2 separate regions of the Homo sapiens genome follow, and region 1 is linked to region 2. The links come from fine-mapping of genetic effects on gene expression. A gene starts in region 2. The other region holds a variant in brackets. All regions are shown on one strand. Distances are between the middles of the regions.

Region 1 (8,310 bases), 350 kb before region 2:
CTGCCCCAGCTGGGTCTGGGGACCTGAACCTCCTCGCCCTGGGCTGCCCCGCCTGGGTCTGGGGACCTGAACCTCCTCGCCCTGGGCTGCCCCGCCTGGGTCTGGGGACCTGAACCTCCTCGCCCTGGGCTGCCCCACCTGGGTCTGGGGACCTGAACCTCCTCGCCCTGGGCTGCCCCAGCTGGGTCTGGGGGACCTGAACCTCCTCGCCCTGGGCTGCCCCAGCTGGGTCTGGGGGACCTGAACCTCCTCGCCCTGGGCTGCCCCAGCTGGATCTGGGGGACCTGAACCTCCTCGCCCTGGGCTGCCCCGCCTGGGTCTGGGGGACCTGAACCTCCTTGCCTGGGCTGCCCCGCCTGGGTCTGGGGGACCTGAACCTCCTCGCCCTGGGCTGCCCCAGCTGGGTCTGGGGGACCTGTACCTCCTCGCCCTGGGCTGCCCCGCCTGGGTCTGGGGGACCTGAACCTCCTCGCCCTGGGCTGCCCCGACTGGGTCTGGGGGACCTGAATCTCCTCACCCTGGGCTGCCCCAGCTGGGTCTGGGGACCTGAACCTCCTCGCCCTGGGCTGCCCCAGCTGGGTCTGGGGGACCTGAACCTCCTCGCCCTGGGCTGCCCCGACTGGGTCTGGGGGACCTGGGGCCCAGCTGCAGCTGCAGCAGCCTTGGTCTTTCTCCAGAAGGATGTCAGGCTTGCCCAGGAAAGGGGCTGTGCTGTCGTCCTGGTGTCAGAAGAAGTGAGGATGCCTGCAGGCTGGGACTGCTGCTGGGGACGTTTGGGTTGGAAGGAAGGCGGCAGTCAGACTTGTCCTGTGCCGGCACTGCTGGGGAGGCCCCTCCTTCCTGCAGAGCCGTCCCCTCATCACTGGGTTGATTACTCCTTAGAGAGCTCCCCACTGCTCAGCTGCTCCATTCCCTAATGGTTTGCCCTCCAAACCCTTCCAAAGCCTCCCAGGGAGAGAACGGGACCCTGGACAGAGTCTTGAGCTGGAAGCGTAGGGCTGAGCTGTGTGTGACTATCCTTTTGCTATGGATGTGTTCAAGCAGATCTGATGTCCTCGCCTGTCTCAGCAGCGGGACCCCTGTTTCCTCTTTGTCTTGCCCCTGGATTGCCTGGAAGCAAATTTCAGGCCTTCTTTATGTCACCTAAAAATATTTCAAACACATCTCTAAAAAAATCAGTTGTTTTTTTAACCTGACCGTAGTACCTAATGTAATACCGCATGTTAAACTCACAGAAGGTTTTTCTTGGAGAAATAAGCCACAATAACAAATTGAAAAAATAAAATTCCCAAAGAGTTCTTCCAGTCGTCAGATATTTGGTCAGTATTCAGAGTAGGATCCAGAGTTCACACATTACATTTGGTTGACAAGTCTGTAGATTTCTCTTTGTAAATCACATTTTTTTGTTGTTGTTATAGCCTGGGGACCTTAATGACTTTAATACACTCTTTTTTTTGGAGACGGAGTCTCACTCTGTCCAGGCTGGAGTACGGTGGTGCAATCTTGCCTCACTGTAACCTCTGCCTCCTGGGTTCAAGCGATTCTCCTGCCTAAGCCTCCCAAGTAGCTGGGATTACAGGCGCCTGCCACCACGCCTGGCTAATTTTTGTATTTTTAGTAGGGACGGGGTTTTGCCATATTGGCCAGGACGGTCTCGATCTCTTGACCTCGTGATCTGCCCGCCTTGGCCCCCCCAAAGTGCTGGGATTACAGGTGTGAGCCACCACGCCCAGCCTCACATTTTTATTTTAAAAACCTCTCCAGGCTGGGCGCAGTGGCTCACGCCTATAATCCCAGCTGTTAGGGAGGCAGAGGTGGGAGGACAGCTCGAGCCCAGGAGTTCCAGATCTTCTGCCTGGGCAATATAATATAGCATGACCCTGTTCTAAAAAAAAAAAAAAAAAAAAAATCTCTGAAAAAGATGATTCAAAAAAAAAAAAAGGAGAGGCCAGGCAAGTAGCTCAGGCCTGTAATTTCAGCAGAGGCCAAGCTGGGAGGATCACTTGAGTCCAGGAATTAGAGACCAGTCTGGGCAACATAGCGAGACCCCATCTCTATTTAAAAAAAGAGAAGGGGCCGGGCACGGTGGCTCCCGACTGTCATCCTCGCACTTTGGATGCTGAGGCAGCTGGATCACCTGAGGTCAGGAGTTCGTGAGGCTCCGGCGTTTGTATTTCATTTGAATCTAAAGTGAGCAGCCACAGGGACCCGCAGCTCATCAGACCAGCCTGGGGTTCCAGGCCAGGAGGGCAGTGGTTTGCTCCAGAGCCAGCTGCTTGTGGGTGTGGGACGGTGGCGACGCGTGCACCGGGGATGTGTCCTGCCACCAGAGGAGGTGTGCGTGGCGGGGAGCAGAGGGGCTTTGTTTCCCAGGTGAAGGTGCGGCTTCTTCACTCTTAGAGGTGCGTGTGTGGGTGGGGGTGCTTGCTGTTGAGGTTTATGCCTGTGACTGACAGCTGTCCCCCAAGCCATGCTGGCAGTGTGTAGGTGTCGTGCCGGCCACCGCAGAGGAATCCTCTGGGCTTCTGTGGTTCAAGTGGGGCCCAGCGCAGAGCTCCATGAGTTGCTGAGCAGCCAGCCCTGCAGCATCTCCTGGTTTTGGCAGCAGGAGGCGTCCCCTGTGCATTCAGGGGCTGTGGGGCTGGGGCACTCGCAGCAGGAAGGAGCCCTGCTCAGGCCTGCGTGCTCCCTTTCTGCAGAGGGAGACGCTGTTGCGGCAGCTGGAGACGAACCAGCTGGACATGGACGCCACGCTGGAGGAGCTGTCGGTGCAGCAGGAGACGGAGGACCAGAACTACGGCATGTATGTGGCCGGACCCGCCCGTGCGGGCGGTGTGGGGGCTGCGGGCGTGGCCGTGGTGCAGGGCCATGGGCTGCACCAAGGAGACAGCAGAGGGGAGTGTCCCCTGTTTGGGGTAAATTAGTCACCTTTGGGCACGGGTGGAGGAGGACTCAGGTTTGCACTGCCCCCAGCAGCCCCCCCACAGTCACCCCTGGCGTGGACTCCTCATACAGGTCATGCTGTGCCTGCCACTCTGAGTACCGCTGACCGTGGCCAGGTGCTGGTGCTCATGGAGTGCTGCTGGGGCTGCCTGCCCATCAGGGGCTTGGCCTCCCAGATTGATGCCAGCATGGGGTGTGCTTTCTGGGGAGCTGCTTGACTTTGGGAAGCTCCCTGTGTTGAAGAGGCATACAGGCCAGGACATGGAGGTCTCTGGTCCTCGATAGCAGAGGGCGGCTCAGAGCATCCTCCTGAGTGGGCCTGGGCAGTGCATAGCCCCGGGGTTGCGGCCAGTGGGACAGCTGGCCCGTTCTCTGCCTCAGGCTCCTGTACAGCTAGGGGCTTGGTGCCTCCCCTGGGACCCAGGCAGGGACCACGGAATCAGTGGCCCTCCTGAGGCCCCCCAGGAGGTCTCTGTTTCCAGAAGGAGAGCCCTGTGGGTCACCTTGGATCTGGCTGTTGGCTCAGACACAGCAAGAGACCGAGAGGGAAGGCAGTTTGATGCCTGGAGAGGGACCCGTGGCTTCCAGCTGCCAGGCCAGCCCCAGAATGGAGCCCCCCGCATGGGCGCTTCTCTGTTGAACCAATCCTGGCATTTCCTGGGCCTGAGAGTTGGGTCAGCTGGATGCTGCGATGGCCGCACGTGCTCCACCAAGCCCCAGCCCCCTCCTCTTCCCAGAAACCCCCGCTCACGGGAAGGTCCAGTTGCTGCCATCTGGCCACCTCTGCATGGAGCCCCCAACAGCTGTGCCTCAGAACAGATCCGAAGTGACTTTCAGGGGAGCTGGACACATGTACGCTGGTGCCTGCTGTCCCCACCCTTTGGCACTGCTGCTCTTTCTTTTTCTGAGATGGAGTCTCGCTCTGTCGCCCAGGCTGGAGCGCAGTGGTGTGATCTCGGCTCACCGCAAGCTCCGCCTCCCGGGTTCACGCCATTCTCCTGCCTCAGCCTCCCAAGTAGCTGGGGCTACAGGCACCCGCCACCACACCCGGCTAATTTTTTTTGTATTTTTAGTAGAGACGGGGTTTCACTGC[G/A]TTAGCCAGGACGGTCTCCACCTCCTGACCTCGTGATCTGCCTGCCTTGGCCTCCTACAGTGCTGGGATTACAGGCATGAGCCACCGTGCCTGGCTGGCACTGCTGCCCTTGGAAGTGGATGGGGATGATGGCCTCTGTGGGGCGGGTGGCCCAGAACACAGTGGCTCTTCCCAGCCCCAGCAGCAGCAGCAGAGAGCCCCCTGTCACCTGAGGGCCTCAGGGAGAGGCAGGGGAGCCAGGCTTCTCACCCGCCTTCTGCCTTTCAGCTTCCTGGAGATGATGGAGGCTCGCAGCCGTGGCCATGCGTCCCCACTGGCGGCCAACGGGCAGAGCCCATCCCCGGGCTCCCAGTCACCAGTGGTGCCTGCAGGCGCTGTGTCCACGGGGAGCTCCAGCCCCGGCACACCCCAGCCCGCCCCACAGCTGCCCCTCAATGCCGCCCCACCATCCTCTGTGCCCCCTGTACCACCCTCAGAGGCCCTGCCCCCACCTGCGTGCCCCTCAGCCCCCGCCCCACGGCGCAGCATCATCTCTAGGCTGTTTGGGACGTCACCTGCCACCGAGGCAGCCCCTCCACCTCCAGGTAGGCCCTGGAGCTGCCCCTCCCAAACTGGTCCCAGACCCCCAGGCCCTCACAGGTGGGGTCCTGGATTTCGGAGCGCTCCACGCTTCTTCCTGCTTGTCCCAGTCCCGTGGGCACATCCCGGGTGGGCCTGGCTTGGGGTTGGGTGCAGTGAGGGTTCTGGTGCCGAGTGAAGAGGACCCGGCATCACTGTTCACAGAGCCAGTCCCGGCCGCAGAGGGCCCAGCAACGGTCCAGAGTGTGGAGGACTTTGTTCCTGACGACCGCCTGGACCGCAGCTTCCTGGAAGACACAACCCCCGCCAGGGACGAGAAGAAGGTGGGGGCCAAGGCTGCCCAGCAGGACAGCGACAGGTGAGGGGTGGGCCTGGGCCTCCTCTCCCATTGCCCCCCAGCCTCCAGGGTGCCCGAGCAGCAGGTGGGGCTGGCTTTCTAGGGGCGCAGAAGGGGCCCCCCGCCGGCTGGTCACTGTTGGCTGAGGACAGAGCAGCTCTGTGGCTGGAGCAGACGAGGGAAGGGCTTGGACGGGGCTTCCAGACATCAGAAAGGCCTGGCCACCTGCTCTGCCCACACCCTGGAGAGGACAGGGGCACCTTGGGGTCTTCTGTGGGCAGATGCCACATGGAAGCCATTGGAGAGGCCACTGCAGGTCATATGGGAGGTTCAGGCCACCAGATGTGGTCTCCACAGGGCCAGGATCCAGGTGCTGCAGAGACAGGGGCGGCTTCCTGCAGGTCCTAGAGCTGGGAGCTAGAGCCGCCTCCCCAGCCATCTGCCAGCCCCTCCCACCACTCTGTCTGCCAAGCTGCCCCAAATTTTGCCTGCAGCAAAGCCCTGCATTTGGTCCCAGGACAGCCCTGGACAAGCTCCACCCACAGTGGCCTCAGCACCTCAGCCTCACCCATTGCTGTGGGGCAGCGGCTTCCTCCAGAAATACACAAAGGACAGAAAGCCCCGTGGCCCTGAGCTGGGCCCGCCTCCTCCACGAGCGCCCACTTGTGCGGCTCCACATCCTTCACCCACTGAGCGGCCGCAGGGCAGCACTGTGTCCAACCTTGTGCCCCCGACCCCTTCCTGCTCAGAAGCCCTGTGACCATGAGGGGGCCTCTCCACAACACAGCACCTGGGGTGGGGTGGCCCCACGGCCAGGGTGTGCTGGGTACCAGGGCGCCTAGAACCAAGGCCCGTGAGCCCGGCCAGCCATCCCTACCCCGTGGCCCTTGACCGCTTTGCCCCCTGCTTTGCAGTGATGGGGAGGCCCTGGGCGGCAACCCGATGGTGGCAGGGTTCCAGGACGATGTGGACCTCGAAGACCAGCCACGTGGGAGTCCCCCGCTGCCTGCAGGCCCCGTCCCCAGTCAAGACATCACTCTTTCGAGTGAGGAGGAAGCAGAAGTGGCAGCTCCCACAAAAGGCCCTGCCCCAGCTCCCCAGCAGTGCTCAGAGCCAGAGACCAAGTGGTAAGGGCAGGTGTCCCCACGGGTGCGGCCTGGAGACCCGGGTGGGGCAGTTCAGGACGCCTCCAGAGGACCCTGACTGACCCTCTGCTTGTCCACAAAGGTCCTCCATACCAGCTTCGAAGCCACGGAGGGGGACAGCTCCCACGAGGACCGCAGCACCCCCCTGGCCAGGCGGTGTCTCTGTTCGCACAGGTCCGGAGAAGCGCAGCAGCACCAGGCCCCCTGCTGAGATGGAGCCGGGGAAGGGTGAGCAGGCCTCCTCGTCGGAGAGTGACCCCGAGGGACCCATTGCTGCACAAATGCTGTCCTTCGTCATGGATGACCCCGACTTTGAGAGCGAGGGATCAGACACACAGCGCAGGGCGGTAAGACGAGTCCTCCCGGGGCAGAGGTCAGCCAGGTGGCCAGGGTCCCTCCCACAGGCCTGATCTGGGTGGGTGCAGTGGGAGGAGGCTTCTGGAAGAGGCATCTCATGTCCCCACACTTGGGCCTTGCCGGCCTGGTTTGAGATCCCACAACCCCTGGGGGTGTGGGAGGGATGATGGCCTGACCAGTTGCTCTCCCTGCTCCAGGATGACTTTCCCGTGCGAGATGACCCCTCCGATGTGACTGACGAGGATGAGGGCCCTGCCGAGCCGCCCCCACCCCCCAAGCTCCCTCTCCCCGCCTTCAGACTGAAGAATGACTCGGACCTCTTCGGGCTGGGGCTGGAGGAGGCCGGACCCAAGGAGAGCAGTGAGGAAGGTGGGTGGGGGCACCAGAGTGCGGTCAGCCTGCTGGAGTTTGGGTAGAACGTGGGCCTCCTCCCAGCTGCTGGCCGCTGGCCGGGGTCCTCTCCTGAGTCCAGGATGCTGTGCCATGCTCCTGGCAGCCCCCTGCAGGAGCTGATGTTTGCAGTGTGGTCCTGTCCATCAGCAGGGCCTCCTGGAGGGCTGGGGCTCGCTGCTTTGTGAGTTTCTAGAGAAGTCCTGTCACCCAGCTTGGGGTCCCCGTTGGCCTGAGTTTGAGCCACTGTCTGTCCTGTCTGTGCAGGTAAGGAGGGCAAAACCCCCTCTAAGGAGAAGAAGAAGAAGAAGAAAAAAGGCAAAGAGGTACTGGCTACTCCCCTTCCTGGCAGGCCAGGACTGGGTGGCATGCGGTCCTGGGACCAGGGCTGTGGCTTCCTGTGACTCCATGGCGCCCCATCCTTGTGCTCCTCAGGAAGAAGAAAAAGCTGCCAAGAAGAAGAGCAAACACAAGAAGAGCAAGGACAAGGAGGAGGGCAAGGAGGAGCGGCGACGGCGGCAGCAGCGGCCCCCGCGCAGCAGGGAGAGGACGGCTGCCGATGAGCTGGAGGCTTTCCTGGGGGGCGGGGCCCCGGGCGGCCGCCACCCTGGGGGTGGCGACTACGAGGAGCTCTAGGCCGGCGTGGGCAGTGGCCGCCCTGGGGCGGGGGGCGTGCCTGTCACTGCCTGGGGAGGCATTTGCCTCTGTACCATCGCCTTTGCCGCTGCCCCGTGGCTGCCGTGTGCGCTTCTGAGCTGGAAGAGGCCGGGCATTGGTGGTCCCCAGGCTGGGCCCTGCAGGTGCTGGGCCTTCAGGCCCAGTGTGAGCCTGCTCTGCAAGAAGGGAGGGGACAGCTGGCTTCAGCCAGGCTCGGTGGACACCCTGGCCCTCTCGGGGCAGAGCCGCCAGTGTTTCTCAGGGATGTGACTGAGGCCCAGGAGGGACCTGTGAGGGTCTGTTTACAGAGGCTGGGCAGGGGCCGCTTGGCTGTGGGGTGTGCGCTGCCCCGGCACCTGCTTGCCCTCCGCGCTCATCTGGGGCCGCAGCATGCCTATGGTTCCGCTTCCGGCCGGGAGCCCTGAACACGGGTGTGCAGACTCACCCTAAAGGGCGGCCCAGGCCCCACGCTAGAAGGCTGGCGAGACCGAAGGCAGCATGTGAGGCCTCTCCTGGGAGTGGGGGTTGTGTTTCCCACAGTGGCCTCAGCTGCGCCCCCGCTCAGGTGAGCCCGAAGGCAGGAGCCGGGAGGCACTCCTCCCAAACACTCCACTCAGACCATAAAGCACTCCTGTTTCACTCTGCGTGTGTCTGTTCTTCTGCCTGTACCTCTGCTCCCGCTGCCCCGGGCCCAGGCTGCCGTGGGTTGGCAGGAGGCTGCCCAGCAGTGGTGTGAGGACGTCCCACCAAGTCTGGCCACACCCTGGGTACATTCCAGCCCACCTGTGCCAGGGCTCAGCAGCTGCACG
Region 2 (8,310 bases):
GCAGACACGGTGAAGGCACAGGGAGCCCAAGACGCAGACACAGAGCAGACACGGCGAAGGCACAGGGAGCCCAGATGCAGACACAGAGCAGACACAGCGAAGGCCCTGGGAGCCCCAGACGCAGACACAGGGAGCCCAGACGCAGACAGAGCAGACACGGCGAAGGCCCTGGGAGCCCCAGACGCAGACAGAGCAGACACGGTGAAGGCACAGGGAGCCCAGACGCAGACACAGGGAGCCCAGACGCAGACACAGAGCAGACACGGCGAAGGCACAGGGAGCCCAAGACGCAGACACAGGGAGCCCAGACGCAGACACAGAGCAGACACGGCAAAGGCCCTGGGAGCCCCAGACGCAGACACAGAGCAGACACGGTGAAGGCACAGGGAGCCCAGATGCAGACACAGAGGAGACACGGGGAAGGCCCTGGGAAGACTCCCCAGACGGGAGAGCGGACCCCAGGGCCGGGGCAGGACCACCTCGGACGATGCTGAAGAGCTCCTCGATGCGCAGGCTGGCGTAGATGCGGTAGAAGAACCTTTGCACGTGGCAGCGCCAGCGGCGCAGGGTGTTGCCGGCCTCGGGAGATGCGGGCCTGGCGGGGCCGTCCTGCAGGAACACCTTGCCGAGCCAGCCGACCACCCGCTCGATCCACTGTCAGGAGAACGCTAGTGTGAGCTGCAGGGAGGCATGGTGAGCCCCGGGCTGACTCAGAGGCTGGGAGGAGCCTCACGGCCACCCACCCTGTCGGCCGGGACCGAGGGGAGCCCGAAGGCCACCTGCGTCTGGAGGCTGGAGCACATCAAAACCTGCAGGGTGGGTGATGGCCCAAAAGGCGACGTCCCGGCCCCCCTGCAGTCTTCGTGCCTCTCACACGCGCCAGTGCCCACACTTATCACTGGCAGCAGCAACCCTAGCGTGAGACATGACAGACACACACGACCTGTGCGCTGTGCCTGGTGGGCACACTTGCCCCCACTTAAATGGATAAACACGCCCTTGAGACCAGCCGGGGGGCCCAGGCGAGCACAAACCTCTAGGTGGCAATTCCGCCGCGGGGCCCAGGCGTGCTCATGCCCCACAGACCTGCTACCCAGTGGCAAGACCGCACGGATGTTCACCCTCTCCACCCTACTACCCACTCTTGCCCACCGCTTTGGGGACACCCTCCCTCTTTGAAAACCCAACATCACAGCCAATCTGCACCTCAGTAGGGGGACTCTGAAACACTGAGGAAAGGACAGGTGACACATGGGAACAGGATGGGGGGACCCACATGGCTGGGCCCAGCTCCCCTATGGCTCCGGGAGCCCAGAGCAGAGCCCCAGACCACACCCCAACAGCACAGGTGCCTGGAGGCCCCATGTGAGGGTGTCTCGCTCCCCGCTGTGGTGCAGGCTGGCTGTAGGTCAGTCCATTAGGGACCGGCCAAGCGAGTCCACACTCAAGTAGGGCAGCAAACAGGAGAAGGGGATCCATTCAGTGGCTCCTCTGGTGGGCCCAGCTTCGCCACACCTGCCTGAGGTAGCCCCCTCGGGATCCTGGCCCGATACCGCCTGCAGCCATGGGATTCTGCGCAGATCCGAAGAGCGCACCTCAGATGCGTCCTCGCTATCACCAGGGCCCAGAAGTACTGGTCTCTACCCCACATCAAGACAGCTCCAGCCACCACCCGGTCTGGGCCCACCCAGGCCTCCGTGCTCTGGATGCTTCTGAAGCCAGGTGTCAGGTTTGCCAGAAACCTACTCCCCTGTCTCCAGCGGGGCACAGCCCAAGGGAGGGGTCCTCACCTTGTGGAACTCACGCAGGAAGGAGCGCTCGTACTCGCCCCGGCAACGGTCCTCCATCCTCTCCCGGGTCACCTGGTGCAGGGTGGTGGTCACAGCCTCGGCACTGACCCGCTCCAGCAGACTGAGCCTGTGTCTAGAGGAGAGCCCTGGCCATGGGGCACCCAGAGCACACACCGGCCCCTCTAGCCCAGAACAGCCCCATGCCAGGACTGCCCTGCCTGTAGAGTGCATGCAGCACACACACACACACACACCCAGCACACACCTCCCCACAATCCTCAGCTGTGGGGGGCGGTTGTACCAAAGGCTTCAAGAAGCCACTGGGAGCACAGAGCACTCCCAGGCTCTGCTGTCCCCGCCCAGCTGGCCTCTATCCAGGTAGGGACACTGGCCTTCCCCATGTGATCAGTGGCAGCAGGTGTGGCTGTCGGGGGCCCTAGCCTTATCTCCTAGGATCAACTCTGAAACGACAACCAACTGCACTGCTACCCTGGCCGCAGAGGTACAGATGCCACTGTTTGTGCCTTTCAGTGCAGTCTCTGGTCTACAGTGACAAAAGGACTCAAGAGGAGGATGAGAAAAGTTGCCGTGTAACTTTTGCAGGGATGAGCCCAACAGAAGCCCTTCACGGTCTCCCTGACCCCTGCCAGCAAAAGGAGCACTCCTTTAGTCCACCTTTAGTCCACCTAAGACCTCTCAAGTAGCTGCATGGCTACACCCCCGTTCAATGTGACAAAACCACCACAAATGGCCAAGGGTATGACAATTGCTAGAGAACTACAACAGGACCTGTCTCTCACAACAAACCCCTCTCCTCTCCAAACTAACAAGAGACTGCTTGCCCTCACAGTGACCTGATCTTCCTGGAGAGAAGCAGCAGCAAGCTTCTGTTCACAATTACAGGGCAAGGAATGTCGACGAGGGTGAGAATCATTCCTCCCCAGGATCGACAAAAGGCACAGTGGAATTCTGCAGAGTCCAGGAAGTTTGGAGTTGCTAAGAAATTTGCTGCTGCAGACACAAGCCACATAGGGCCTTACCAGGGTCAAGGCATGAATCTGTGGGACTGAAGGTGAGTGACAGAAGAGAGACACCTGTGTCCAGGACACGCTGCACAGGAATCCCTGGGACTCTCTCTCTGTCATGTTCCTGGTTATCAGGACGGCTCACCAGCTTTCTGCTGAGGCCAGCTGGACCCAGGGGAGCAGCGGGGAACCAGAAGGAGCAAGGGCATGGCCATCGGGACAGACTACTCACAAGACCTGGCTGAGCTGATGGAACTGCTCCAGAGCCTGGCGACACCAGCACTGTTGCTTGTCACTGCTGCACCCTGCACACAGCGGGCTCTGCAGGAGCCGGTAGTACCGGCGACGGGCATACCGGCTGTCCAGCTCCCCTTCCAGTTCCGGGTCTGTGCCCCCTTCCCCCTTCCTCTTACTCTGCATATAGACTCTCAAGAAGCACCCATACAGACGCTGGATCATCTCTTGGAAGGTTCTGGGGGTGCTAAAGAACAAGACTCCGCGCAACATAGTGTGGACTTCTTCTCGCAGCCCCTGAGCACCAGTGCCCATCAGCAAGCCCAGGCGAGTCCATTTCTCCAGCAGCTCTAGGCTACGCAGGTAGGGATCCAGGCGGCTCTCCAGCAGGCCAAAAGCGTCAAGGAGTAGCAAAAGGCACTGGGGCTCATCCGCAGAGTTCTCGCATTGGGAGATGGCATTCCAGAACTCAGGGGAGATGTTGGCCTGCAGATCGTTCTGCAGCACCTCCACGAACCACTCCTCCAGGACCGAGTGTAGCCCGTGGCCCCTCAGAACCTCCACCGCCGCCCGGAGCTCCTCTTCCTTTGGCGGGACTGCACCGCTGGTCCGGGAAGACACCTGGGGTGCAGAAAACCGTGAGGCGAGGGGAACACAACATAGAGGTGGGGAGAGGCGGGGAAGGGAAGAAGCTGAGGGGGAGGCTGCAAAAACTCCGCTGCCCCCTGTCCGTGCTGCCCGGACGTTGGGCCGAAGCTATGGAAGGGCTGTCAGCGGAGCTGAACGAAACGAAACGGAAAGGTGGTGGAAAATGGCAGGACAGGACAGAGGCGGATGATGGACAGAGCCGTATGAACCCGAGGGTAGCGGCCCCAAAGCGCGTACGGTCCCGGAAACTCCGCGCGGGGCCGCCCCTCTCTTCCCAGGCCTCACCAGCCCCAGCGCAGCCGGCGGCACCAGGCCGGTGCTCACGGTGTTCCAGGCCACTAACAACTCCTGTCCGGGCCGGGAGTCGCTGTCCCCCTCCGCCACCACAACTGCCGCCGCCATCTGCACCCACCGACTCCGAGATTCGCTCGGCGCGGCGCGCGGCGATGACGCACGTCTGCACGCGCAGCCATGACGCGCACAAGGCGCTCAGCGATGACGCGCTAGTTCGGCGCGCCGTGGGGGAGTCGTGCGCAGGCGCGGACAGCGCTGCTTCCGCGGCGGTTGGGGTGGTGGGGCCCCGGGCGGCGTTGACCATGACCCAGCAGGGCGCGGCGCTGCAGAACTACAACAACGAGCTGGTCAAGTGTGAGCGGCGCAGCCGGGACGGGGAGGTCGGGAGGGCCGCAGGGCCGGGTTCCCGGCTCGCAGCGGGGTGCCCCTGGACCCGCCTCGCTGCGGGCATCGCGCGGCTGAGCAGAGCCCTCCGTGCCGGAGGCCGGGTGTCCGTGGCCCGAGCCCTCGCTGGCTCGCAGGCCCCGCGCCGGGCGCTCGGGGGTGGTGCCTGACTCTGGCTTCCTCGGGTGGAAGGAGGCCCGCCCTCCGCCGCCGCGCTCCTGCCCTGGGCCCACAGCGCCGCCCCTCCCGGCCCCCAGGCATAGAGGAGCTGTGCCAGAAGCGGGAGGAGCTGTGCCGGCAGATCCAGGAGGAGGAGGACGAGAAGCAGCGGCTGCAGAATGAGGTGAGGCAGCTGACAGAGAAGCTGGCCCGCGTCAACGAGAACCTGGCACGCAAGATTGCCTCTCGCAACGAGTTCGACCGGACCATCGCGGAGACGGAGGCCGCCTACCTCAAGGTGGAGCTCGGGAGGCCAGGCCGAGCATCAGGGGATAGGCACGGCAGGGGTGTTGCCACGGCAAGGCGTCAGGACCGGCTGGGGCTCCCGGCTGTGGGCAGTCTGTGCCTCGCTGGCATTTCGGGCAGGGGCAGCGTGGCCAGGCCCATTGAGGAACCCAGGCTGCTGTGGGAGTGACTGTGGGGCTGTCTGTGGGGCCTGGGGCATCCTGGGTCCTGGTCTTTATCCGGTTCTCGCTAGCCATGTGGTTATTTCTGCTCAGTGTGAAGAGCCAGGTCTTGGGCAGAGCACCCAGCACGGGCCAGTGCTAACCCAGCCTGGCTTTGAGGGTGGAGAGGAAGTGTTTTGGGTCAGATTCCGGAGGGAAGAGGGCCCTGCCACCCCGTCTGCCAGTCCCCTTGGGCTTCCGCCTTCCCCCACACAGGATCCCTTGGCTACAGCACCCCCAGCCAGGTCCCAGCACCTGAGTGTGAGGACAGCTGGGGCTTAGGACCTTACCAACAGGTGAACATTAACAACCTTCTCACTTCTCTGGCCCCAGATCCTGGAGAGCTCCCAGACTTTGCTCAGCGTTCTCAAGAGGGAAGCTGGGAACCTGACCAAGGCTACAGCCCCAGACCAGAAAAGTAGCGGCGGCAGGGACAGCTGACCAGACCACGGGCAGGGCCTGCCTCCGTGTGCCCCTCAGCTCAGCCCCAGCAAGTGTGTGCTCAGAGCATCTTTGTTCTTCACGGCAGCAGCTACCTTCCCTCACTGTCTCAGGTGCCGAGAGGGGCAGGTGCCAGCCTCCACTGGCATCAGTGACAAGCCCAGGGCACAGCCCACCCGGGGGTCCTCGCTTCATGCTCACACAGGCTATGGGGATGGTGGGCTCCAGGTCAGCTCTGCAAGGGGCTTGTCTCTGTGGCACCCACACTCCTGCCCTGCCAGGGAGGCTCTGGTTGTCTGAGCACCATGGGGGCCCCCTCACCTTGTCCCTCCTCAGCCAGCAGAGGCCCAGGGCAAGGGACAGGAGGACAGGGGTTCTCCTTCACCACAGAACCCAAACCTCAGGTCTCACCCCTGTGGCCTGTGATTATGAATAAAGATTATCTTTGTAAAGATCCGTGCCAGCCTGCTGCTTGCCCGTATCAACAGCATGGGGCTGCCAGACACCTGCAGAGCCAGAGCCTGAGGCTCCCCCTTGGGAGAGGAGGGAGGAGGGTCTGGAGTGGCCTCCCTGTGACTGCCCCACTAGCCTCAGGGACACCGCTGAGGGTGCCCACCCTCCCCAGGCCAGCCCCACCCTGAGCCCTCCCCAGCAGGGCCGCCGGTCCTCTTCCCCTGACTGGCCCACGGCTCACCCTCCTCTCAGGAGCTCTGCTTGCTCGTCCTGTTCTCTGCCACACCCTGGTGGCCAGCATAGGACCCAGCCCAGAGAGACAGCTGGGGATGCCAAGCATATCCAGCAGCTGCCTCAGATTCAGGTCCCTCTCAGCAAGGACTGGGGGGAGTTCACACCCCCCACCCCCGTCGGTTCCTCAGTTGCAAGTTTTGCTTGGCCTGATGACACCACTGCTGCCACCAGGCCCTGCTGCCCACCTTTCCCTGGCCGCACACCAAGCACTGGCCACTTCCATCCTTCCATGTGCCCTGGGGCCTCTGTTTTGTCCCTGCAGCAACCAAGCATGGCCCGAGGACTGGGCCGATTTGGGAGGCATGTGTTGATCCAGAGGGTCCAGAAAAGAGCTGGGCCTAACCCGACCAGGGAAATACACCAAACTCTCCTTCCGCCGGAGTTTGGCCAGACAGCATCTCTTTATCTCTTTGCTCTTAGGTTTGATCCTCCAGGGAGGAAATGGTGCTTGGGTTCCATGGGCTGTAAACAGCCCCAGCTCTGGCCGTCTGAGGCAGGCGCTGCTCCCGGCCTGCCTCATCCTGTGGGTCGGGGGGCACGCCAAGCCCAGCAGAAGACACCGTCCCCTGTGCTGCCCTCATGCTGCCCTTCCCTTGGTCCCTCCCCAGGCTCTGGGCCCCTCAGAGAAGCCACTTCAGGCCCAACAGCTGCAACACTCTCACCCTCCCACCTGAAGTCTAGGCCCCTGACAGCAGGCCTGTCATCCTACCTCCCACAGTGCCAGCTCTGGGAGGCTGGGGTGGAGGGGCAACAGGTTAACAGGCCATGGAAGTTGGGAGGTCAGAGCCTTGGCCACTGGGACATCAAGGAGTGGGGGTACCAGATCGGGGTCACCTCCCACACACCCTGGCATAGACGTGCAAACTGGGGCCCACTGGACCCCATGTGGCCTCTTCCTGCAGAGACCTCCCCCTGCTCCCTTCTCAGCCAAGGACCACGCAGTGGGGACACCAGCAGCCTTGTCCAGTGCTGTTTATTGAGTCCATCATCAGAGGCAGGAAAGACGCCACTCATCACAGAGGGCATGTGGGCTGCGGGCAGGGGCTTAGGGTCCTGCAGAGGACAAGTAGCTGGGACAGCCCTTCACCCCGACACCCCATGGCCACTGTGAGGCAGGCTGAGGAGACAGGACAGGGAATGGCCAGGTGCAGAATCTGCACAGCCCCCTGCCGGGTCGCAGATGGCCACCACCCAGCAGGCCCCTGGCACTCACCCACAGGCAGTTCCCCACCCCACTTCCCCCTTGGACCCTCCCAAATCAGGGCCGGGGAGTGAGACCCAGACCTGGCCCCGATGGCAGGAGGCACCCTAGCTGCTTCCAGGGCCAGGAGGGGTGGGTGGGATACAGTGAGGCCAAACAAGGCAGAAGCGGGTGCAGTAGTCCCTGGCTACTGCCCAGCTTCCGGGACTCCCACAGCTGGGCTCAGCCTTGGTCCTGGCAGTGCTGGGCTCAGAAATACAGGGCTGGCTCGCTGCGGAAGTCCGAGAGGTCATTCTGACTGGCGGGTGTGAGCTGAAAGTGAGAGGACAGAATGTGGACACATGGGCTCGCCCGGGTGTCAGACTCCCCCCAGCGCTCCACTCCCCCGCATCTCACCATGGCCTCCACGGGCGGGGGCTCTGCCTCCCTCGGGGCCTGCTCCAGCGCCTGCTCCTGCCACTTGCTGAAGGCCACAGAGTGCTTCGGGGTGTAGCTGGACAGGCCTGTGAATGGAGGTGCACATGCAGACGTGGACACAGACCAGGCTCCACCCCTCCCAGGCTGCCTGTCCCCCAGGTGGGCACTCACCTGAGCTACCCTCTGGCAGCCGAGAGCTCTCGGGTCTCACGCTGCTCACAAACGTGGCCCGGGGCAGGAAGAGTGCAAAGGGCTTCTCCTCTGAGCCGGATCCCTCTTCCTCCTCTTCCTCTTCCTCCTCCTCCTCCTCCTCCTCCTCCTGCTGGTCCACCTCTTCCTCCTGCTCTAGGGAGCTCTCGGAAGGGTACTCAAATGTGGTCTGCAGGCTTTTGTCGTTGAAGGAGATCTTCATCTGGGAGTGAGAGTCACGTGAACGAGGGCTGAGGGCCCACATGGGCACAGTG

Evidence for each region. PIP is the estimated chance that this variant, and not a neighbour inherited with it, causes the effect.
Region 1: its variant is fine-mapped to the expression of SSNA1 in whole blood (TOPMed, PIP above 0.99).

The regions. Positions count from the first base shown.
Region 1 is chr9:136,833,043-136,841,352 of GRCh38, forward strand. RABL6 (RAB, member RAS oncogene family like 6) reads left to right here. Exons shown (of 15, transcript NM_024718.5): 8 at 2,700-2,803; 9 at 4,304-4,620; 10 at 4,820-4,973; 11 at 5,867-6,079; 12 at 6,180-6,444; 13 at 6,652-6,823; 14 at 7,112-7,170; 15 at 7,280-8,145. The coding sequence ends at 7,480. Among named protein-coding and RNA genes, the nearest start is that of AJM1, 5.3 kb to the right of the region's middle. RefSeq lists an enhancer at 5,274-6,155. The variant G/A (reference allele first, on the strand shown) is at 4,037.
Region 2 is chr9:137,184,434-137,192,743 of GRCh38, forward strand. SSNA1 (SS nuclear autoantigen 1) reads left to right here and starts at 4,243. Exons shown (of 3, transcript NM_003731.3): 1 at 4,243-4,345; 2 at 4,633-4,832; 3 at 5,374-5,933. The coding sequence starts at 4,294. The coding sequence ends at 5,481. ANAPC2 (anaphase promoting complex subunit 2) reads right to left here and starts at 4,127. Exons shown (of 13, transcript NM_013366.4): 1 at 3,983-4,127; 2 at 3,048-3,670; 3 at 1,791-1,923; 4 at 480-654. The coding sequence starts at 4,099. TPRN (taperin) reads right to left here. Exons shown (of 4, transcript NM_001128228.3): 2 at 8,018-8,258; 3 at 7,826-7,932; 4 at 7,186-7,741. The coding sequence ends at 7,679. RefSeq lists an enhancer at 4,035-4,254 and a silencer at 4,285-4,634.